4 linked regions of the Homo sapiens genome follow. The protein of the gene in region 1 purifies or fractionates together with the protein of each later gene. This does not show direct contact. Each region holds a gene or a part of one and is shown in the gene's direction. Other genes may lie near its edges. The genes, in order: AXIN2, RNF111, RLIM and TNKS.

Region 1 (6,073 bases):
CACTCAAAGGAGCCTCGTTTTTAACGACTTGTTTGTGTCCTTACTGATTTGGTGTCAGGTTTAATATAAATAGTTGGGGCGGAAGAGCAGGAATTATCCTCAGAGGGCAGGACTCTGGTCTGAGTGGTTGAGGGGGATGCCTGGGCTTTTGACAATGGCTATAAATAACCTAGAGCAAAAGCAACTTGTTGGTAGGAGCACGTGTAAAATCCCCGGCACACAGACACACACACGCACAGTGTCGAGGTGTGTGCGAAGGGGGGTTGTGGGATTGGGCACTGGGCCCAGCATTTATTTTGGGGAGGAGAATAAGGTGCTGGGTGCACAGAGCCCTCCCTGTGTCCTCGCCTTTCTGCACGGGCCCTTGTGTGTCCTGCCCAAGGTGGGGCTCATCTGCCTCCCATTGGGCCCTCTGCTCTGGCCTCCCTTAAAAGAAGTCGGGCCCAGCAGATGGCCCTCTGCTGGCTCCGAGTGCTGCTTCCAGTTCTCTGAAAGAACTCGCTGATGAGGCCCGTTTTTGTGCGGAGCCATTGGAATCAAGCTTGGCTTCAATTATCAAAGAAAATGATGCCATAGGAAAGATATGCTGGAAGCAGTAGTCCACAATTAGAGGATGGAAGCTCTGGTGAGGGCAGTTTGCTAAGATCCACTTGTAAAAGTTTGCCTGTTTTCAAAAGGTCCCGTTGCCCAGTGCTGTTGGAGTCCTGGCCCCTTGCCGAGTGTCCCTTGATCTTGCCTTAGAAAATGCTTGTTGAAGAGGGTATTGCCTTTTGGGCAGTGACCTTGTGAGTAAATTTTCAGAGGGCTCTTGGAAAGCCCTGAACGCACAGACTTAGAAGCATATACTTTTGAAGTTGCATTGTTTTGAGAAGGGAACGTGAGGAGGAGGAGGAGGAAGAGGAAGAGGAGGAGAAGGAGGAGGACCCCTATGGTCAGTTCTGTCAGGTCAGTTCTGTGCTCCCTGCCTGGAGGCTCCCCTCTGGTTTATGGGGAGGGGCAGGGCCACAGCATCTCATTAAGAGGAGATAAGAACAGGATAGGGGAAAACAGAAAGCAGCCGGCACCTCCTTTCCCTGAAGGTTCCGGGGGTCTCTGCCACCTGCAGGCTGAAAACCCTTTGCTTACTGAGGTTGCAAACCAGGTCTGTGGATGTGAGGCTGATGCAGAAGCTGCAGCATAGGCCTCTACTCTGTGTAGGAATTTAAAATCCTTGCAGCAACTGGAAGCACAACAGTCCTGAGGAAATAAAGCATCTGGGTACAATTACTGTAGCGTGGTTTGAGTTTCCTCCCCCCCCCCCCGCCTTTTTTTTTAAGTAATCACAAGAAAACAGCCCCACTCCGTTTTCTTAAAATTATGTGGCACTTTTGACAAAGGTCTGGGTTCTGAAATACCGAGTCTCTGCCTCTCCCCACAACCCTGCCTCCTTTCTCTGCCCTGTCTTGTTATGATTGTGGGAAAATCCAAGTACTTTATTGCAGTCAACTGAGTTAAGAGCAGTATATTCCATTTTTAATTACTGGTCACACAGTAGTCCTCTATGTTGGAAGTGAAGGGAGACAAGTTTATTTTGGGATCCATGTGTTAAACAACGAGTGCAAAGCCGTGTGAGCACACATAGGGTTTGAGTTAGGTGTCTTTTTTGCTGGGAGGAAGGAATTTTCTATTGAGTCATTTTCTCCCCACAGAGGTTGAAGTATAGCTCTTACAGTGGAGACATGGTTGATGTGTTAATACCACCAAGATAGCAGGACTGAAGGCATGGAAGAAAGAGTGTTTGAATGCTATTTAAGGCTGTTTTGGCTTTTTTGGTGTTGCACCATGCCTGTTAAACTAAAAAACTTTTCCAGTGACCCATCTAATGGTCTTAGGTCCTTTAAGGAGAGTCAGCAAGGTTTTCAGTCACTGCCACGTGCCACTCACTACTTTCAGCGTCGGAGATTCGTGTGAGGACAGGGCTGTCCCTCATGGAGCTTACAGTCTGGTTTCACAGGACAGGTGTTCAACATGGAAACACCAGTGTCCAGTCATTATAGATCATGATAAAGATGATGAAGGAAATTAGGGCAGTTGAGAAAATGGGAGCTCTCTGGTTTTTTGTTTTTGTTTTTGTTTTTTTTGAGATGGAGTTTCATTCTTGTTGCCTAGGCTGGAGTGCAATGGTGTGATCTCTGCTCACCACAACCTTTGCCTCCCGGGTTCAAGCGATTCTCCTGCCTCAGCCTCCCGAGTAGCTGGGATTACAAGCACGCGCCACCACGCCCGGCTAGTTTTGTATTTTTAGTAGAGACGGGGTTTCTCCATGTTGGTCAGGCTGGTCTTGAACTCCCGACCTCAGGTGATCCACCCATCTCGGCCTCCCAAAGTGCTGGGATTATAGGCGTGGGTCACCGTGCCTGGCTGGGGCTCTCTGTTTTTGTTGGCACTCGGTTTTTTCTTGGAATTTTCCTGTGATTTCCCCCAAATTACTGTGCCTTTGTTGGTTCATTTGGAGGACCTCAGAACTTGGTGCAGAGGCCATGATCCAACTGCCTGCTCTTCAGGTGGGTGCCCACCTCTGGAGGGGTTGTGACTCAGCCCAGCAGTGAGCACTGCAGCCAAGCCGGCAGCAGTGCCCAGCCTCTGACTTCTGGTCCCTACTGAGAGTTTACAGAATGTGGCCTCATCACTGGATTCCTAACAACAGGAAAAGGCCCCAAGGAAGTCATCGTGTGCATCCTGCTTCAAGGCAGTATCCACGCCTTACTTACGCACCCAGATGGCTGGGCACTTTGGCCTGTTTTAAAGACTTGGGTGATTTCACAGCCTGTCCCCACCTACTTTATGGATTTCCTCTGACCATTTAGAAGTATTTTTTTCTCTCTAACTTTTGAAGTCTATTTCCCCTTGTTCTTCCTTTAGTGGGGATGCTGAACAGAGAGTCCCCCTTCTCAACTACGAGGCCTTTTTCACTGAATCAACCTTCTCTTCTCCAGAAGAATGAACTGTTCTTTTTACTCTCACCACTCCTCTCTGCCCTTGGTGTTGGGGAATTCCGGATTGAGGACACATGGACCAGGAGGAAGGCCTGGAAGATCTTACCGTTCTCATTTAATTTTCACCAAAAAAATCCCAGGAGGTCGTGAGACTTCTTGCCCTCTACAGATATGAGAACAGGGTCAGAGTGTCCAAGTGACGGTCACAAGTCACTTGGTCAAAAGTGTTGAGGGGTTCATGTGCAGTGCTCCTGGTCTGCACCTTCTGGTCAGTTCTATGCCTACAGCATATTTCTAAGATCTGACTTGATGCAGTCGGACAGGATCCAGGGCACAGCTGTGGTCCGGCTCCTCTGGCCAAGTCTGACAAGGCCTTTGGCCCACATGGTGCTAAGTTACCTCCTTGGGTGGTTGTGATGATTACAGGGGTCCCTTCTGGCTTAAAAAGTTTATGGCCCTGTAACTTTTTGTGTGTGTTTGGTGACTCCAACAAGCGCAAACTCCTTAAAGGCAGAGACTGCCTCTCCTACCTTCTTTTCCATCCCACCATCCCCTGTTGAGACAGACCCTCACACCAAATTGTGGCGGTGGCTTCCCCCAGGGCTCCCTGCCTGTACCTACCCCTCCTTTCCATCCAGTCTGGTGACAGACCTTGGATCCTATGTGCTGATGGGAATGCTTTCTCCCTGCCGGTCCCCTGGCACCCCTGCTGTCCCCTGGCCTCCTGGCCCCTCCCCATCCAGTTAAGACAGGACTATGACCTTGCACTGAAGACCTACGTCCCTTGCCAGGCCTTCTTAGCCTGGCTAATTAGACCCCTCTCTCTCCCTAGTCTAGGGAGAGCTTTTCGCTACCTTTCCCTTTTTTCCCTTTACCTAGTCCTGGGTTGTCATCTCCTCAAATTCCTGCTCAACCATGAGTCCCATCTGCCATCTGTCCCAGGGAGTCCCGTTAGTCCCATTAGTCCCATCAGTCCCATCTGTCCCAGGGAGCCGTCCCCAACTGTCCCTCCTAGAAATGTTCTATCCGTCATCTGGGTTACCTGTACTAAGGCACTCCTTTCCTGCTTTTTATTCTGTGAGAACTTGGAAACATGTTGAGTCTAGTCTTTGTATTGGGAGGCAGTTTGATTGAGAGCCACGTGACTCAATCCATGCCCACCAGTTCCAGCTGTGTGATCTGGGCAGGCTGCTGGAATTCTGGACTCCAAGGGCCTCATCTGTAGAATGGGCACAGTCCAGTGCTCCTTCTCCCCTCCTCGTGAGCCTGTGATAACACTGAGCGTACCTCCCTCATGACACCCCCACAGTATGGTGACATGCCCCCACCAGGCCATGGGTGCTGGAAGACCAGAGTTCAGCATGTAGCAAGTGAGTAGGAGCTTGGTGAACATGTGCAGACAGCTGACTGTCACCTTTCTGGGTCCTTTTCATTTGCCAACCCCACGGCCATCTTTACAGACCAGCTGCTGTGGACTAATAGAATATATTCTCTTTTCTGAGCCTTTCTTTTCTCCCTCACTTGATTTCTTTGCTGCTGGCATAGACTTGGTGGGACCAGTGGAGGATGCCAGGGTCTTTGTAAATAGGCCTCCTGCGACTTCAGGCCTTAACGTGCAGCCTGCCGACCTATCTGCCCCTCCCCGCTACTTAAGCCCCTCACTGGTGACACAAGAGGAATGCGGCCCAGCAGGAGATGTGCACACTGGTTGTTCTGGAAGGAGATCAGGAGGGTGAAATTAGGAGCCAGAGGCCATTGAAACAAAAGGGCTGGAGATACCGGAGGAGGGGCCTGGGCCTTCCTTTGAAACAGCTGTGTTGCTCATTTCAATCCTGCTGCACTAGCCAGTCCTGGGGAGAGGAAGCTGGGGGTTGGGGGAAGGGGCATGGCAACGGCTCATGGCAGAGCTCACAGGTGGGATTGGAGTCCTGAACGTTGTCTTGAACTTTTCTGTCCCGTCTGTCCAGCTCACTGTGGGCCCAGGGTCAAAGTGAGAAGGCCACACTGGCCTCTAGCTGTTTGCATCTCTGGACTGGGCTAACAGACCCCAGACAAGGAGTTTAGGTACTTAAGATGTCTTGGGGCCCTGAAATTGTATTCTTTGGTGCAGGATTGGATAGGGAGGTGGAGCAGAGAAAGATATTTCATCTTCACTGACTCGTTCCCCTCTTCTATTCCATGGCCTCCTCTCCTAAAGCAGAGTCCAGTTCCTTCCTCTAAGTGCATTTAGAGCTTCACAGGATCCCCTGGGCTGCCTCTGGAATACTCTCTGCCCTGGCAGACCCACCACTGGGGGCAGAGGAACCAGCTTGCTTTCCCCAGGGTGAACCGGTGGCTCAGGAGGCCTCCCTTTTGTGGCCCCTGCTTTCTGCCCAGGTGAGCAACTGGACCTGGGCAGCAGGTTGGCGTTGAGCAGATTGTGGGATAGTGTGCTGGGTTGTCCTGGGGTCACCTGATTACCTGGGTTTCTGGTGAGGGTCAGTGACTGAACCACTTTTGTACTTTGCCCATAGGTCCTTCAAGAGGAGCGATCCTGTTAATCCTTATCACATAGGTTCTGGCTATGTCTTTGCACCAGCCACCAGCGCCAACGACAGTGAGATATCCAGTGATGCGCTGACGGATGATTCCATGTCCATGACGGACAGCAGTGTGTGAGTATCCTGGCCACCCTTCCGTGGGCTTGCTTGGGAGTGGATGCCACCTGAGCACTTAGCCAGAATCGTCTGTCATCCTCAGCTGGCTTTGCAGACCGCACCTGTGCATGTATGGACATCAGTTTGGTGGGAGGGGAGTATGACAAGGGTATGGTGCTGATTAAGGAGGATGACATGGTCATCTGGGTAGGGTAAAGCTTAGAGCTTTGAAAGTTGGGAGGATATTGTAACAGAAGAAAAACTAAAGGACAGTAGAAGATTAGGATGAATGAATATTTATAGATTCCTTGAGTTTAAAAAACCTTCTTCTGGTTGTCATCATCTGGTTGTCCCTGTGGGAACAGTTGCTTGGCTGGTCCAGAAACCCAGGTATCCTGTCTGCAGAACCAACAGCTGGGAGACAAGGTGGCATTAGAAGGGTCTGTGTTTAGGTATTCATTG
Region 2 (6,073 bases), on another chromosome or scaffold:
GGATTCTGAGAACTGGCTTGAAAAGTTGAGAAACACAGTTAAAATAATATCAGAAAATACAGTTACCACTTGAACAATGCAGAGGTTAGGGGTGTTGACCCTCCTCACAGTCGAAAATCAGAGTATAACTTTTGAGTTCCTAAAATCTTAACTACTAATAGTCTATTGTTGATCGGAAGCCTTACTGCTAAAATAAACAGTTGATCAACACATATTCTGTATGTTATAAGTACGTGATAATGATAGTCTACAATAGATAATGATAGTTTACAATAAAGTAGAAAAAAATGTTAAGAAAATTATAAGGAAGGGAAAATACATTTACTATTCGTTAAGTGAAAGTGTATCATTATAAAGGTCTCTTTCCTTATTGTCTTCACATTGAGTAAGCTGAAGAGTAGGAAAAGGAGGGATTCATCTTGCTGTCTCTGGGGTGGCAGAGGTGGCAGAAAATCTACATGTAAGCAGACCCATGCAGTTCAAACCCATTTTATGTTGTTCAAGGGTGAACTGTAATATGGTCAGTATGGTGTCATCACAAAAAAATAAAGTTTGAAAAGTATTGAAAGCATTTGGCAGTAGAGTGGTTATTGGTCTTTTGTGTCAGAATGGTTCAGTAATGGTGAGTGATGTAGATGGGGCACCTCTTAGATTACGTACGGTAAGGAAGTGAAAACATGGAGACAGTGAATATAGCCTTCTTGCTTTATAAGCTTGGCTGTGAAGGGAAAGTGAAGGAAACCCCTATTTGGTTGGCAGTAATTCCAGGATTAGTAGAGAATTTAGGTTTGGAAAAACTTAAGGTATTTTCAGGTTTAAGACAGAAAACCATTAGAGAGGAATTGTTTGAAGATATTGAAGAGAGAGAGGCTTGGTGGGAAGTAGTGAAGTAAGCATGACCCAGGGTGAACAGGTGAAGGGAGGAGTGGGTGATAAGGATTGAGTTCGAATAGGAGAAAAGCTCATCCATAAAGGCTGGAGGAAAGAGACTAGGGAGGAGAGGCTTTTCAGGGTAAGTGAAGATTTAGATAATTTGGGATGCAGGAGTTCCTTTCCGATTTCTTTGAAGATGTTTAGGAGGTTGGGTTATCTGCTGAGTAGTAATGATCTTGGTTATAAGAAAAGTTGTAAACAATTTAAGTAATAGGCTATTGAAGGTTAAAAGTTATTGCTTATTTAAATTCTTTTCCACATATGAAGTGTCCGTTAAAGCTATAAATTCTGCTTAAAGTATGTTGTGATTCAGTGTAGGCTAATTAAAAAGTAATGTCAGAGATTTATTTATAAAGATGGAAGAATGGTGCTGTATCTCAGAAATGCCCTTTCCTAATACTCTCACTATGCATGGCAGTTATGATCTATACAGTTGCTGCAAACACTGAATTAGCAAATATGGGACCCTTGCAAACCTCTGTTCACAACTAATCAGTGTATAACCTTTTTTATGTGTGTTTCTGCTTAAAGACAACTTTAAAAAATATTGTAGAATCATTAACATTGAACTCATAGCCAACAACACTGTAACTCATGCGTGAATGAAACTTATTCTCTCCATAAGGTGTATGACAGCCTTCTTTGCTTAGGAACACTAGACAGCACTTCAGCTCTATGCTTGGGTGCCATTTTAAACAACACAATCACCAACAAAAAGCACAAAACTGTGAAAAACGTGGCACTAAACAGTCTGCAAACAAGACACTGGTTTATAGTAGGAGCTCAAATACGGCAGAGCCCTGTTCTACCTCAGCTGGGAACAGAGTTGCATGTTGGGCAACTGCAATTTTTTGCCACCGGTCATATCCACGAATGACTCTGAAAGCACAAGTGTTGATTATGGGGTTACAAGTAAATTTTAGCCTGTGGGTCAGTTCACACATATGTAATCCATAAATAATGAAGATTGACTGTAACTAACAAAAAATTAGAAAACAGTGTTAAAAGTTTCCCTAATAGAATCAAGCAAAAAAGGCATAGGGTACTTTGGCTGTTAGGAAGCTTAACAGAAGTGAAGTAAAAAACTTATCTTGAAGTCGAATTTTGTTGGAAAATTGTGTGCATTTTTTGTTGTTGTTTTAATAAAGCTCTCTGAAATGGACAGGATCTTAAGACAATTTTACTCTTTTCAAGTTTGAGCTACTAAGAGCCTCAGGCTTAAGTTTGGGCATTTTGGAGAGTTAGGTTATATTTTAACAGAAACCTAAACCTGTTACAGAATGCTTAGTTGGAGTTATGTATTCTTATTGAAGTCAAATTTTATGAGCAGTTGAATTGAAAACATTGAGGGTCTTGAATTATTCAATGTTAACAGTAAATCACAAGTCTATTCTTAAAATTGATTTAGCCTATCTCTTCTGTTGAAATAGGTTCCTGATATGGCAGGCTATCCTCACATCCGTTACATTTCATCAGGATTGGATGGAACATCATTCAGAGGTCCTTTCAGGGGCAATTTTGAGGTATGTAATAAAATAAATGAATATGTTTGTCACAGTATCTTTAATGCAGATTGAGTATATATATACTACTATACACAATTGTGTAGGACTGCTACAGTGGCTGGGAATCACATGTGATTTTCTGATGTTGCTTCTGGGAGTTACAGAAATATTTGTAAGTATTATTAATCTTAGGGTCAAAAGTTACCGAAATATTTAAAGATGAGTAAATGAAAATATCTAATATAGAAGAATATAAAAATGTATTAAATCAATATAAATGTCAGATATATAACTATACCATTAAATGTGGTGGGGAACGGAATGTTTTTGACTCAGCTAAATTTTTAGAGAAATCGGTAGAGAAAAAGAAACTTAAGTAATTCCCTTTGTAGCTAAATGTCTTGTTTGAATTTTCAGGAAGAACAAATCATTCGAATGGGATTTAAAGTTTTGTTGTGGTTTGTTTTTTTGTTTGTTTGTTTGTTTGTTTGTTGTTGTTGTTTTTTTAGATGGAGTCTTGCTCTGTCACCCAGACTGGAGTGCAGTTGCACAATCTCAGCTCACTGCAACCTGCGCCTCCTGGGTTCAAGCAATTCTCCTGCCTCGGCTTCCTGAGTAGCTGGGATTACAGGTGCCCGCCACCACGCCCGGCTAATTTTTGTATTTTTAGTAGAGATAGTGTTTTGCCATGTTGGCCAGGCTGCTCTTGAACTCCTGACCTCAAGTGATCCACCCACCTTGGCCTCCCAAAGTACTGGGATTACAGGCGCAAGCCACCGCACCCGGCCCCCGTTGTGTTTTTTTTATGTCAGTTTGGAAGTTGGAGTCATTGTGACTTAGAACTATTGTTTGATTTGGTTCCTTAATTTACTAGAATTATTTCATCTTCTCCATACATACATACATACTGACTTACATAGTACCATGTGATAATATTGTTGTAATTTATAAAGATAACTTTTGCTGTACCATTTCAGTTGGCTGAGGAAAACATGATAAACAACCATTTGCCTTACTGTCTATGAGAAACATTAAGTCAGGCATGGTGGCTCACACCTGTAATCTCAGCAGTTTAGGAGGCCGAGGTGGGAGGATCACTTGAGGCCAGGAGTTTGAGACCAGCCTGGGCAACATATAAACTGTTTTATATATATACTTATATATAAGTAACCACTTGTCATGTGTAAGTTTTTTTGAACACTGTATTTATATTGCAAGTTTCTAAGTATGGAGGTTTATTTCTTATACAATGTTGACAGTTCTGTTCAAGGAATAATCATCTTGGCTTTTACCAGTCATTATATTCTTCACTTTCAGGAACTGATTCATTTGGAAGAAAGATTAGGCAATGTCAATCGTGGAGCATCCCAGGGGACAATTGAAAGATGTACATATCCACATAAATACAAAAAGGTAAGAATTTATTCTATGAAACTTCTGGAGTGTTACTGAAAGGCATAAATGTAATATATACCTTTTTTGAATTTGTAGACTCTAGCAATGACATTTTTATTGAAGTAATGCATACATATTGTTTAAAAATTTTGGAAAGTATAAAAAATATATACTTTGCAGTTTTTTACTCTGCAGACCCTAGTCCTTCTTCCCAGAAGTGAAATCATAGTTAAGGATTTAGATATTCTTCTAGATATTTTTTAGCATTTTCTAATAATGTGCATATGTATATATATTTTTGTCTACTTTAAAAAAAACACAAAAGGAGATGATTACCACATAGTTTGCAGATTGCCTTTCATGCCAATTAGCTCCCACAGATCACCCTTATTATTTTTAATAGCTTATGCAGAATTCCATCATATGGCAGTACTGTAATTTTTTTAACTAGCAATTTATTTTGACGGACATTTTATTGATGTATGTTTCTTCTACTCTACCCTCAGTTGCTTGTATAGCATTATACAGTTATGGGGTAGACATGTTAAATACGTGTCTTAAACCATGCTCAATACCAACGGTCCCCAACCTTTTTGACACCAGGGACCAGTTTTCATGGAAGACAATTTTTCATGGATAGGTGGCAGAGGGGATAGTTTCAGAATGAAACTATTCCACCTCAGATTATCAGGCATTAGTTAGATTCTCTTAAGGAGCATGCAACCTAGATCCCTCACATGCACAGTTTACAATAGGGTTCACGCTTCTATGAGAATCTATCGCTGCTGCTGATCTGACAGGAGGAAGAGCTCCAGCAGTGATGCTCGCTCACCTGCCACTCACCTCCTGCTGTGCAGCCAGGTACTGGTTTGCAGCCCAGGGGTTGGAGACTCCTTTATACTATGTAAAGAATAATCATAAAGTGTGAAAATTACTATTCTCTGTATTTTTCATCTATTTTCAAAGAGTATTGAGGTATTACCAGTACATTCAAGTTTTCAACTGTCCAAGTTAAATACTGTAACTAATGTTAATTTAAATGGATGTTACTTGAAACATTCACTAATAAAAAAAACTTATTTATGCTCATGGTAGGATAAAAATAGTTTATATTGTTTATCATTCTCATTGTGGATTAAAAGTAATAGCTTTTAAGTGAATGAATTTCTGTTAAATTTGATTTTGCTTTTGATCCCAATTATTAGAGGGTCTTAAAAATATACTTAATTGATGATAGTCACTTAATTCATCCATTTATTTATGACAGTCTTACCTGGGAAAAAAGTGCGGGTGAATATGTGGTTTTGTTTTGTTTTGTTTTTCAAATAAACACAGACTTTACTCAGTTGTTCAATAATGTCATCTCTACTAATAAGGTAACAACTGATTGGTTCTCACAGAGGAAACTGCACTGCAAACAAGATGGGGAAGAAGGGACTGAGGAAGACACAGAGGAAAAATGTACTATCTGTTTGTCTATTTTAGAGGAAGGTGAAGATGTGAGGTAACTAGATATTAATTATCTAAAATCCATTGTCAAAACTGTACATGGGATTTTATTTGAAAAGTAAATTACACCGGGCATGATGGCTCACACGTGTAATTCCAGCACTTTTTGAGGCCAAGGCCAGAGGCTCTCTTGAGGCCAGGAGTTTGAGGCCAACCTGGGCAACATAACAAGACTCTGTTTCTACAAAAAAGAAAAATAGTACAATTATTTGCATGTGATGGTGTGCACCTGCAGTGCCAGCTACTCAGGAGACTAAGGCAGGAGGATGGCTCAAGCCCAGGAGTTTGAGACTGCAGTGAGCTTTGAGCACACCACACTGCACTCCAGCCTGGGCAATAGAGTGAGACCCTGTCTCTGAAAAAAAAGAGTAAAAGTAAACTGGAAACCAAATAAAGATTACTTTTGGCATATACTGTTACCAATTTCTGGCACGTAGAACTGGCTTCATCTGGCGAGTGAAACAATAAAAGATTAAAGTATCTATGTTACCAACATGGGAGTGGGAAATATACTGCCTATTGTAGGGCCACACAAGGTTTGGCCAGGGAAATTTCGTAGTCAAAATTGTCTTCTGTAAATCTTGCAGAAATGAGAATTTGAGAGGCTTTGGAGGTCCTAGAAAGTTATAATGTGTTCTTCAAAACTTAAACAGGGATCCAGATTAGTCCTATGCAGTCTGTTTTACAGCATCTTTTTTTTTTTTTTTTTTTTTTTTCCTTTTCTGGGAGAT
Region 3 (6,073 bases), on another chromosome or scaffold:
ATTTCAACATGTGAATTTGAGGGGGACAAACATTTGGTCAGTAGCACATATGTTCATGGAATTTAGTTGTGTTCGTGGGGAACATAAGGGGAATCTGGGGTTGTAAGGTAAAGAATTAGAGGATGAACATTTTTGTTTGTAGTCTCCCTGTATTTTAGATTGTTGACTACCATTGTTTTTTATTAGTGTGCAGTTCATTGATGAGTATGTGTGGAATGTCTGCCAATATTCTGGTTTCCTTAAACTCGTACAAATAGTGAATGACAAGAATTTTTGGCTAAGTTTATGTATTACCTAGAACAGGAGTTGGCATCCTTTTTCTTTAAAAGGCCAGATAGTATAATATTTTAGGCTTTGCAGATCAAAAAGCAAAATTGAGCATATTGTCACACAAAAGAGAGAAACCAAATTCTCACAGTTTTTCCTGATAAAACTCAAAATGTAATAACAATAATTGAGTACAGTGTTTCGTGAGATAGGTTTACTAATGAGAAGAATGATACTCTTTTGAGGGTAACATTTTGCTTAATTGGGATTCATAGCTAGTATTCCTTATTAGTCATTTGCAAATGTCCATTTATTGCTGACTTAAATATTTAATCTTTGAAAATATCTTTTCATACATATAGGTATTGCTATCTTAAGCAATCCACAAGTGTATGATTTTAGTGAAGCATATATAGAATTTTGTTAGATTTTTATCTTTTTTTTTTTTTTTTTGAAACAGAGTCTCACTGTGTCGCACAGGCAGGAGTGCAGTGGCGCGATCTCTGCTCACTGCAAGCTCCGCCTCCCAGGTTCATGCCATTCTCCTGCCTCAGCCTCCCGAGTAGCTGGGACTACAGGCGCCCGCCACCACACCCAGCTAATTTTTTTGTGTTTTGAGTACAGGTGGGGTTTCACTGTGTTAGCCAGGATGGTCTCTATCTCCTGACCTCGTGATCCGCCCACCTCAGCCTCCCAAAGTGCTGGGATTACAGGCGTGAGCCACCGCGCCTGGCAATTTTTTATCTTTTAATTTAATTTAATTTTTTATGAAGATGGGGTCTCACTATGTTGCCCAAGCTCGTCTTGAACTTCTGGGCTCAAGTGATCCTCCCACCTCGGCCTCCCAAAGTGCTGAGATTACAGGTGTGAGCCACCACACCCCAGCCAGATGACTTTAATATTTACCTTTTGGCATATTACCACTGCAGAGATGTCACTTCTAGTTGAGGGTTAGATGGAAGCTCCTCAGTTGCACAGTTAAATGGATTTTGAAATAAGGAAATTTATTTTGTGCTTACATTGGGGTCTGCAAAACAGTTCTGGAACTGTAGTTTGAGCTCAGAAAATGTATGTGCTACAAATTTGTGTGGGAATGGAGCTCTCATTACTTTGTCAGGACATGAAGTATATAAAACAGCTTGACATTACATGTGATACCAATGTTGTTGCTGAAATGGCTTTACCACAGTATAAGTTTCATATATAAGTATTTTTTGCTTTGTTGTTTTAGGATGGATTCATTAAGAAACATTATCAAGTCTGCAGGAAACACTAATTTTCCAAGCTATTTATTGTTTGATAATAGTAATTGAGAGCGGTTCTCACAGAAAATAAATCCATCTTTGCCTTGAGCACAACAAATCACAATAAAACTTTACCAATATTAGCCCATCAAATGTTGTGTTGTAGAGCAAGACAAAATTTCTGACAAAAATTCATGGAACTTGAGCTTAAACCAGAGTTCATAAGAGAGAAGTTTATCATTAGTGCTACTGGTTCAGTAATATGATAGATTGAAATTTTCTTCAGATCACTTGATGATGAGTAATAAAATATATAACCATAAACGTTAAATACCTTACATTTTCATAAACTTTGTAAATTTGTCCAACTAGGTCTTTTTCCATTCCATATATATTTTTACCATTCCAGTAGTAACATATCTTATTATGAGATTCTGCTTCAGGTTTTGCTGAATTAGTTTTCTCAACTTTGAAAATATTCTCACCTATGATTATTTCATGTAGACTACACATAGGGGCTACTTCTGCAGTTCAAACTCCTTGAATAATCAACACTTGGCTCTTTGAATAAACAATAACTTAAGTAGTATCAGTTACATTTGTCAACAAATCAAGAGCCAAAGAGAAAACCACTCCATCATTTACCTTATTTTTCAGTTGATTAGTGACATTGCTTTTCAATATTCCCAGCTTTTTGGACCACTATACTTACCAAAAGTCCAATATTATGTTTATTTTCTCTGGACACATTTCTTCAGCTTCTGCACTCAAACATAATTTCACTAACTCACCATCAATAAACAGCTTTCCTCGTTTAGCCAATAAATGAGCCCCTGGGAAATTTACTTTGATTGAAGCCTCATTTTTATTTTTGTGAAGAAATATTTTGTGATGAGATTTCACTTTAAATTTTCTAACTTTTTGAACTGTAGTTTTCCTGTGAATTGGGAATATTGTCACTAGTGTTTAATAGTGTCAGTATATATTGTATTTAGTATATAGTATTTTTTGCATAATCATGCATTCTTTGCCATCTAATCTGATTTTTGAAAAACCCATCCTCTGCTGCACCTTTAAGCGTGACATTCAGAGTCCACTTTTCTCTTTGTTTGAGATGATGAGTGTATACTCAGTTTTTTTTAATGTCCAGTGTGAAGGCACTTGAAATGCTGTCATTATAGCTACATCACTGCAACTTAAGAGTGCACAGAGCAGCAGTCCAAAGCAATGGGAGTGCCACATACAGTCTGTCACAACTGCTCAACTCTGCCATTATAGCACAGAAGCAGCCATAGATAACATGTAAATGAATGTGTATGGCTGCGTTCCAATAAAACTTTATGAACACTAAAATGTGAATTTCATTGCATTTTCATATGTCACAAGATAGTCTCTAAAAACCATTCTTAGGTTGCAAGGAGAATAAAAATATGCAGCACGAGGCTGGGTGCGGTGGCTCATGCCTGTAATCCCAGCACTTTGGGAGGCTGAGGAGGGCAGGTCACTTGAGCTCAGGAGGTTGAGACCAGATTGGGCCAACATGGTGAAACCCTGTCTCTACTAAAAATACAAAAATTAGCTGGGCGTGGTGGCAGGTGCCTGTCGTCCCAGCTACTTCGGGAGGCTGAGGCAGAGAATCACTTGAACCCAGGAGGTGGAGGTTGCAGTGAGCTGAGATCGCACCACTACACTCTAGCCTGGTTGAGAGAGCGAGACTCCATCTCAAAAAACAAAAAATACCACAGTATGGCTGGATTTGGCCCAAGGGCTTTAGTTCGCCAACCCTGTCTGGTTCAAGGGCTGTAGTTTGCCAACCCTTGACCTACTCTTAATATAACAGTGCTTTTCAGGAGTTTTTGTTAGGAAATTTCATTTGAGGTCTGAAAATCCATCTCTAGACCTACATTCTGGATTTTCACATAATTAAAACTTGTATAGAATACATAGTGACCTTTATTTTCAAGATTAGTCTCTTTTCTCTTTTCAGGTATTTTCCACTTGTTCATCAATATGGAAAACTCAGATTCCAATGACAAAGGAAGTGGTGATCAGTCTGCAGCACAGCGCAGAAGTCAGATGGACCGATTGGATCGAGAAGAAGCTTTCTATCAATTTGTAAATAACCTGAGTGAAGAAGATTATAGGCTTATGAGAGATAACAATTTGCTAGGCACCCCAGGTATGCTTACATATATTTAAGGATTTATAAGTGTAAGTTGCTGGTTTAAAAAAAAATGCTTGAACCTGTTTTAAAAATCCATTTCTTTAGCCCTTATGAAATATTATTTAACATAGGGGATATGGAATGACATTTATTGCTGTATTTATTACCTGATTATATTTACTGATGTTTGGAATTACACTATATCAGAGAGATTTTTAACTTATGAATTATGAATTTTTAGCGAACTGAATTGAAAAGAATGGAGCTAAATCTTTTTTTTCTTAGTTAGCTTTATCTAACTTACTAGATAAGAATCCGAGTGTGGAATAGCTAATGGGAACTTAGTTTTTAGGAAAGACTTATTCTGTTATCTCTGATTTTCTGAATATGTCCCAGTTGTAATCCTCCAGAGCTAGCCTTGGGTAACATAGCAATTAGAAGTTTGTGCTTAATTATCTTTTACCCCACTAAGTCCCATTTGATCCTAGTTAAAAGTCAGTATCTGTCTTCCTCTTCATTTCTGTTTAATTCTACTTACCTTTGAGTAATTGCTTAGATTTTAAAAGGTAAGGTTTTAGCATGACTTTTAAGAGAGGGAGTGTGTTTTTAGCCAACAATACCAGGCTTGAATCAGAATGCTTTAGGTGGAGTTCTGGCCCTGCTGTTTGGTGTGGCTCCTGGCAAGCCAGTCTGTCGCTCAGTCTGTTTCTTAATTTTAAAATGCAGATAACAATATCCTCCTCTCAAAGCTGCAATTCTTAAAAATTACTTACTTATTTATTTTTGAGACAGGGTCTCATGTTGCCCAGGCTGGACTCAAGGGATTCTTCCGCCTGAGTCTCCCAACGAGCTGGCACTACAGATGTGGTACCACTGTGCGCCCAGCTTAGAATTGCCTTTGCCTTTTTTTTTTTTTTTTTTTTTTTAAGCAGAGTCTTGCACTTTCGCCCAGGCTGGAGTGCAGTGGTGCAGTCTCTGCTCACTGCAACCTCTGCCTCCTGGGCTCAAGCGATTCTCCTGCCTCAGTCTCCTAAGCAGCTGGGATTACAGGCACCTGCCACCATGTCTGGCTAATTTTTGTATTTTTAGTAGAGATGGGGTTTCATCATGTTGGCCAGGCTGGTCTCGAACTCCTGACCTCCGGTGATCCACCCGCCTCGGCCTCCCAAAGTGCTGGGAGTACAGGCGTGAGCCAAAGTTAGATGTTATATGCAAAAGAACTTTGTAAATTGCTTTTAATATGTTTCCAAAGAAGTGAATTTTTCCCAGGACCTACCTACTCCTTGGTTTTTCTTTTTGGTTTGAAAAAGTTTTCTCTTTTAAAAATATGATTTTTTTTCTAATCATCTTGTGTCAGATTACTGTGAGTCACTGATAAAGTATTTGATTGTCATACCCCTAATGTCATCTTTGCCCTGTGGTGTTAAATTTCAGGTGAAAGTACTGAGGAAGAGTTGCTGAGACGACTACAGCAAATTAAAGAAGGCCCACCACCGCAAAACTCAGATGAAAATAGAGGTATGTTTTGGTTTTGGTGGGGAGGTGGATAGACGATGGGATGATAGGAACTTTGTAATAGTAAATGTCAGCCAAAGATTATCCAGATTTGGCACAAATTAATTTGGTGCTAAGTAACTGCTCATAAAAAGAAAACTGACATTTTCTTGATACTTAGAATGTCAGCATTTTTTTTCTACCTCACCTTTGAGATGTTTATGTTAATTGGAACACAGTGAGAAATGGCCCATTTAAATGTGATTTTGTTTGTTTGTTTGTTTTTCACCTCCATTGAAATTTATTCCTACTTAATTCCTTCTTTATAAACATGTGACTTCTTCACCAGCAAAAAGAAATGTCTAAACCCAGTGGTTCCTAATGAGATATAATTTTGCCCCATGTGGGACATTAGCAACGTCTGGAGACATTTGTGTAGAGGGCAGGAATGCTGCCAAACATCCTGACATGCCATAATGCACAACACAGCCCCCATGACACAGAATTAACTGGCTTAAAATGTCAGTAGTACCACTGTTGAGAAATCCTGCTCTAACCTCAGGTCTGGTGTTTCCCTCCCAGTGTCAAGTAGGGATTTTGATTGTGCAACCTGAGAGGCTACGATAATAATTTGGTTCTTGAACATGCCATTATATGTGCTATGCAAGGTTCAGACTACTTATTTGATCTGATCTTTAACTTCATGTCCATTGAAAACCTTGGTAACATTAAGAAATATTCAAATGCTTTTAAACCTATAAATCTTGTTTGTATTTTTCTTATGGCTACAATAAATAGTCCTGTATTTTAAAACAACCTCAAATGTTATCAAAGGCACAGTATGTAGACTAATAAAAATTTGACAGAAATGTAGCTTGAACTAAATGTGACTGTTCGTTAAACA
Region 4 (6,073 bases), on another chromosome or scaffold:
ATAACTCTGGTTTGAGGCTTTATTTTCATGTACCTACTTAATTAAGGATACTTCTCATAATAATTTCCCAAATCAATTTAATTTTATCACCGTTCTGTTACTTGAAGTTGAAATTGTGTCTCAGTTGCAGTTAGGGTTTTTCAACTCTTAAATTGCATTTTAGAAAAATAAAACAAATTGAAAATTATGAAAATCCAGTAGCATAGCTATCAGATTCAACAGATAGTAAAGGATCATCCTTTATTGATAAACCAAAATCATAAGTATACAATACCAAATTTTTTTTCTGGTGAAATCTTGGACATCTAAACTGAGAAAACCTAGAAGGTTGATGTGAGGGGATATGGGTGGTAACTAAAAAAGCAGTTATGTCATTTATTTTACCAGTAGGTCATTTTTGAAAACTTTGTATCAGTTTCCTGTAAAGTCTCCAGAGATATACGATCATTGGGTTTGCTGTCCTATGTGGTGGACTAACATTTCTCATTGCCCCACTTTAAGATCTGAAAGATAATTAACCCTACTACCCAGGTAAGGTAGATTATGTTACAGTCTTGTGACTGACAGCATAAAGAAGAGATGCCCTAGAGGAGAGTTTCTTTCACTTTGTCCCTCCCCAAGTCAAGAAACATAAAAATGAACTCAATGCTTGAGACACTTACCAGAAGAATTCTTCCATTTCCAATCTGCTTTTTCTGGTGCTGTTCTCTTGCCTGCACCAGGTTTTGTGCCATATGTGAATGGTGTCCCAGTAGTATAGGGGCATAAATGCCTGATGCTCTTGTACATCTCTATTTCCTTGTGCATGTCTGAAAACAGATGGGTGTACAATAGGTGAGTCATCAAGAGATGTACACCACAAAAAAAGGGTTTTTTTGGTTTATTTAGAATACTTTGATATGCAAGTTATAATAGTTTGGATATTTGATTATTTTGCTAGAAATTACCATTAAAGTGAATTAAAATGGTGGAATATTTCAGTTCACTACCAATTAACATTTATTTCTTGTAAATACTTAATATATAATGCATGCATTTGTCAATTAGCATATGATCTTCCTTTCGCCAAAATGTTCTTCTATTTGGTATTTTTTTCATTATCTTCAAGGATTATATACAAAAAACAAGATAAATACAAAAGGTGTGAACATAAGCTATGCTTTGAATTCTTTTATTATTTTATTAAATACTTTTAAATATTTTAAAATAATTGTATTGGGATTTATTGGATTTTATTTCTTAGTACGACATGGATAAATAAGTTGTTTGAAATTTAAGTATTTTAATTTGCCTCTTTTCATTTAGTGGACTTGTGCCTCTTCATAATGCATGTTCATATGGACATTATGAAGTCACAGAACTGCTACTAAAGGTAAGAGAAATTCAGAATATTGAGCATCATTTACTTTTTTTTTTTTTCTTTACCTTGTCATGACTTTCCATACTTTCGGCCTCATGAAAGTTTGTTTAGTTCTTTGGGGTTTTTTGTTTGTTTGTTTTGAGACAGGGTCTTGCCCTGTCACCCAGGCTGGAGTGCAGTGGCACATTCACAGCTCACTGCAGCCTCAACCTCCCAAGTTCAAGTGATCCTCCCCCTCAGCCTCCCCAGTAGCTGGGATTACAGGGGTGTGCCACCACGCACAGCTAATTTTTATGTTTTTTGTAGAGACGAGGTTTTGCCATGTTGCCCAGTCTTGTTTTTTTAGATTTTAAGAGAATAAAATACGTTTTTAAACATATTACCATTGCCTTAAAATTTTTAAAACATTGAATTTAATTTCAGCTGTTTTTGAAAGGTGATATTGAAGAAATTAAAACACTTATTTGAACAAGTTATAACTGAAATTTACAAAGAAATAAATGTCTTTTGAGTTTTATTTGATCCAGCAAAATGATTACTGACCTAAAATGTTTTTTTTCTCAATTCAGCATGGAGCTTGTGTTAATGCCATGGATCTCTGGCAGTTTACTCCACTGCACGAGGCTGCTTCCAAGAACCGTGTAGAAGTCTGCTCTTTGTTACTTAGCCATGGCGCTGATCCTACATTAGTCAACTGCCATGGCAAAAGTGCTGTGGATATGGCTCCAACTCCGGAGCTTAGGGAGAGATTGACTTGTACGTATTTATATCCCGAAATCATTATCGCATAAATTGGAATATTTAATTTCTGTTGAGTTTTATCTACCTTAAATAATAACCTTCCATTCTTACAAGCAGACTAATTCATAATCCTCATTTCTAATTGTATACTTTTCTTCATGAATTCCATGGGAATGTTATATACAGACACTTTTTGTATATATTGTATTTATTCGAGCCTAGTTTTAATTCGTATGTTGAAGCTCCTTTTTTGGTTTTTTGAAGGCTAATGAGGATGAGTCAATCAGCATCCATTTCTTGGATACTTGCAATGTGGCAGGCACTAGAAATATAGCAGTGTACAAACCATTAAAAAGCTCTGAGCTTCTGGGGCTTACATTCTTGTGCTATTGACAGTGATAGGTATCTAGCATTATTGAAACCTCTTATGGGCTTACGTTCTTGTGCCATTGACAGTGACAGGTATCTAGCATTATTGAGCCCTCCCCATTTCCCGAGCCCTGCAAGGCTGCACAATCATATTTTTATTTGTCATGTGTGTTATGACCCAAGTATAATCACTTTCCCATATTTAAGTGAGATTTTAAAAATAATTAGGTTGAGGTCATCTTCTGAATATATTACCAATATATACATGCAAATGTTTTTTAAATAAACTTTTTGTTTCAGCATAGTTAAAGATATAAAAATATTGGATTCTCATTCATGCAATTAATTTAGATACAGCTTTTCAAAAAATCTCTCACCTGGTTATGAAAATAATAAGCTATTAATTGTTCTTTGAAAAATTTTCAAGCTCTGCATTTCTCCCATATTTTAGTCCTTTCCTTTTCTGTGTCAAGACCTAATCACCATTGATATTTTGGTAAATATTTCTGTAAATGTTTTCTATACCATTACTTATGGTGTACTTATGGTGGCAATAGTAGTAGCAAGAGTAGTGACAATACCAAAAATAATGCATCAGCCTGTCCTTTCTTTTTTGAATTTTCATGTACCACTGTATACTTTCATGTCAGTGTATGTAGACCTATCTCTTGTTTAAGAGCTAGAAAGTGTTACAGCATATGTGCACACAAATTATTTAACTGGTTTCCTTTTGGTGGACATTTAGGTTTCCTGTTTCAAAATTTTGCTGCAATAAGTATCTTTATAGGTGTATCTTTATGACTCTGAGAGTGTGAAACAGTCTTATTTCAGAGCATACATACTTCACATTAATCTACATCCTCATCTTTTGCATTTTTATCATCATATTATCACATTGCTGCTGTTGTTAAAATAGAGAAATTCATAAAATAATAATATTCCTACTTATTTATAATCATGCTGAAGATTTTTATACATTTTTACATCTTTTTTTATGTCAACCATTGTTTCATTGACAGATGAATTTAAAGGTCATTCTTTACTACAAGCAGCCAGAGAAGCAGACTTAGCTAAAGTTAAAAAAACACTCGCTCTGGAAATCATTAATTTCAAACAACCGCAGTCTCATGAAACAGCACTGGTAAGATTTTATTGTTAATCTATTCCCTGTGTCTATAATAATAACGTAAGCACAAAATATGATTTTCATTTCAGAAACCTTAAAGTAACTTTAGTATCTGAAATGCCAGGAATTTGCATGTTAATTTTGGTTGCATTGATTTTTAAACTTAGTTTGGGGGGTGATTCTTTTCATGGGTGAGAGAATTGACATTTGCTCAACCTCAATTTGGAAATTATTTTACCTTTGTCTTCCCCACCTCATTATAACAAATCCACTTTTGTGGCCAGTGCTTTCATAAACTACAAGATATGATTTTTCAATAGAATTTTTTTTTCTTATGTTTGCTAGATAAATACTAGATTTCCTTCTGTAGAAGATTAAAGTATATTTTTAGATATTTGCATTATCTTTTTGAGCAATTGTATTCAAAGAACTGATTATATTCATGGTAGAAAAATGGCAAGATCATGAATTTTTTGTTTGATACTATACAAATTATTCTTAAAACTATCCACGTTTTTTTCTTCAAATGCACTTTCGGAAAGATTTATTTATTTTCTTTGTCATTGACACATTAAGGCTCAGCTAGAGAGTGGTTAGTGATCGCTCCTAAATTCAGAATTTAAGCATATGTGATGCCTGCATCACAGACCTTAAATATACCTAATTAATATTCTTACGTATATTTGACACAAAAGATCAAACGTTTGTCAGTATCTGCATAAAACAACATTAAAGGATTGACCAAACTGAAATAGGCTAACTATATGTACACTTAAATACATGTCTCTCAAACTAGGGTTGAGATAGATTCAAGCTACACGGTGTTATGCTAGGAGATATTCATAGCCACAGAATAAACCTGACCCACTTTTTTGGAGTTTTCATTTTATTTAGTTGAAAGTAGTTTTTTATTTTTAAATTTTAATACGAATATTAAAATGAAGCAGAATAAAAAAGTTGTATAAATATTATGTTAAAACCTAAAATTTCTGAGAATATTTTTCTCTAAACTGCTTCAGTTCTATCATTTTCTTGCTTATCCTTGGGCATATAAACGTCTCCTGTAGTGCTGGGAGTACCTCTGTAGAAGAGCTTAGAAATACTGACTTGTGTGGCTGATGGCCTAATGAAAGATTGAGTAACTTAGTTATAGATTTCTGTAGCGTTGCAGAGGCATACGTATTATGATGCTCTCCATGGAATATATAGTGAATATTTATTGATTGGCTAAGCCAAAAGAAATAAGATCTCTCTTAATGTTTAAGAGCATAATTTCACCTTGGTTTAAACGCTTACGTTTTGTATTTCCACTATACGTAGAAAGAATATGGATCATCTCTGTGATATAAAACATATACATATGTTCTGATACTCTGAGATAACAATGTTTTAAATGGTCAGCAGATACTGTTCAATTCCAAGAGCTACTGTACATATGGAAGTGTATTTTATTAACTTGGTTTTGTTTACTTTATAGCACTGTGCTGTGGCCTCTCTGCATCCCAAACGTAAACAAGTGACAGAATTGTTACTTAGAAAAGGAGCAAATGTTAATGAAAAAAATAAAGAGTAAGTATAATTGCAGAAGGAGTTGTTCAGTTCCTAAAGAGGAAATGCAATAAAAGAGAGACAATTACCTTTTCTTTCTTTCCTCTTTTCTGTAGTTTCATGACTCCCCTGCATGTTGCAGCCGAAAGAGCCCATAATGATGTCATGGAAGTTCTGCATAAGCATGGCGCCAAGGTGAGGCACACACCTGAGCAGAGTGCCAGACTCAGCACTGAGCAGCCAGCTGCTCTTAACACTGCTTCTCTCTCTCCGATTTTTCTGAAGAAACTAATTTTATAAAGGACTATTAGTTCGTACTTAAATTCATGGATTCTCCTATAAAGCTGATTTAGATCTTGTTTCTAATAAAAATAATTACCCGTGTTTCTTGATCCTTTAATGTCACCCTTCTGTAAAGCAACAAAATATAGCTATAGTCATTTGAAATAGATTTCATCTTTACATTACTTTCAGTTAATACTATACGGATATATTTTGATAGTGTCCACTTGAATAACAGTTTATCAGAAAATAAATTATGTTAAATGATAGCATCAGAATAGCTCTACTTATTCTAAAAAACATTTGTGGCCAGGCACAGTGGCTCACGCCTGTAATCCCAGCACTTTGGGAGGCCGAGGCAGGTGGATCACGAGGTCAGGAGATGGAGACCATCCTGGCTAAGACGGTGAAACCCCGTCTCTACTAAAAATACAAAAAATTAGCCGGGCGTGGTGGCGGGTGCCTGTAGTCCCAGCTACCCAGGAGGCTGAGGCAGGAGAATGGCATGAACCTGGGAGGCGAAGCTTGCAGTGAGCTGAGATTGCGCCACTACACTCCAGCCTGGGAGACAGAGTGAGAATCTGTCTCAAAAAAAAAAATTGTATGCCTTCAGATTTGTAATAATTTTCTCAACCTCTACACTAAAG

The links.
Region 2: the proteins of AXIN2 (region 1) and RNF111 purify together in Homo sapiens (affinity purification with western blotting, with the first as the bait; one study listed by BioGRID). This does not show direct contact.
Region 3: the proteins of AXIN2 (region 1) and RLIM purify together in Homo sapiens (affinity purification with western blotting, with the first as the bait; one study listed by BioGRID). This does not show direct contact.
Region 4: the proteins of AXIN2 (region 1) and TNKS purify together in Homo sapiens (co-immunoprecipitation; one study listed by IntAct). This does not show direct contact.

The regions. Positions count from the first base shown.
Region 1 is NC_000017.11:65,549,076-65,555,148, reverse strand, and holds part of AXIN2 (axin-2), read left to right. Parts: intron 1-5,488; coding exon 5,489-5,629; intron 5,630-6,073. UniProt on the Homo sapiens protein: Inhibitor of the Wnt signaling pathway. Down-regulates beta-catenin. Probably facilitate the phosphorylation of beta-catenin and APC by GSK3B.
Region 2 is NC_000015.10:59,087,304-59,093,376, forward strand, and holds part of RNF111 (E3 ubiquitin-protein ligase Arkadia), read left to right. Parts: intron 1-2,363; coding exon 2,364-2,456; intron 2,457-3,755; coding exon 3,756-3,851; intron 3,852-5,209; coding exon of another isoform or gene 5,210-5,233; coding exon 5,234-5,337; intron 5,338-6,073. UniProt on the Homo sapiens protein: E3 ubiquitin-protein ligase. Required for mesoderm patterning during embryonic development. Acts as an enhancer of the transcriptional responses of the SMAD2/SMAD3 effectors, which are activated downstream of BMP.
Region 3 is NC_000023.11:74,593,426-74,599,498, reverse strand, and holds part of RLIM (E3 ubiquitin-protein ligase RLIM), read left to right. Parts: intron 1-3,498; 5' UTR 3,499-3,521; coding exon 3,522-3,690; intron 3,691-5,109; coding exon 5,110-5,193; intron 5,194-6,073. UniProt on the Homo sapiens protein: E3 ubiquitin-protein ligase.
Region 4 is NC_000008.11:9,704,882-9,710,954, forward strand, and holds part of TNKS (poly [ADP-ribose] polymerase tankyrase-1), read left to right. Parts: intron 1-1,305; coding exon 1,306-1,372; intron 1,373-1,929; coding exon 1,930-2,116; intron 2,117-3,489; coding exon 3,490-3,611; intron 3,612-5,073; coding exon 5,074-5,165; intron 5,166-5,260; coding exon 5,261-5,339; intron 5,340-6,073.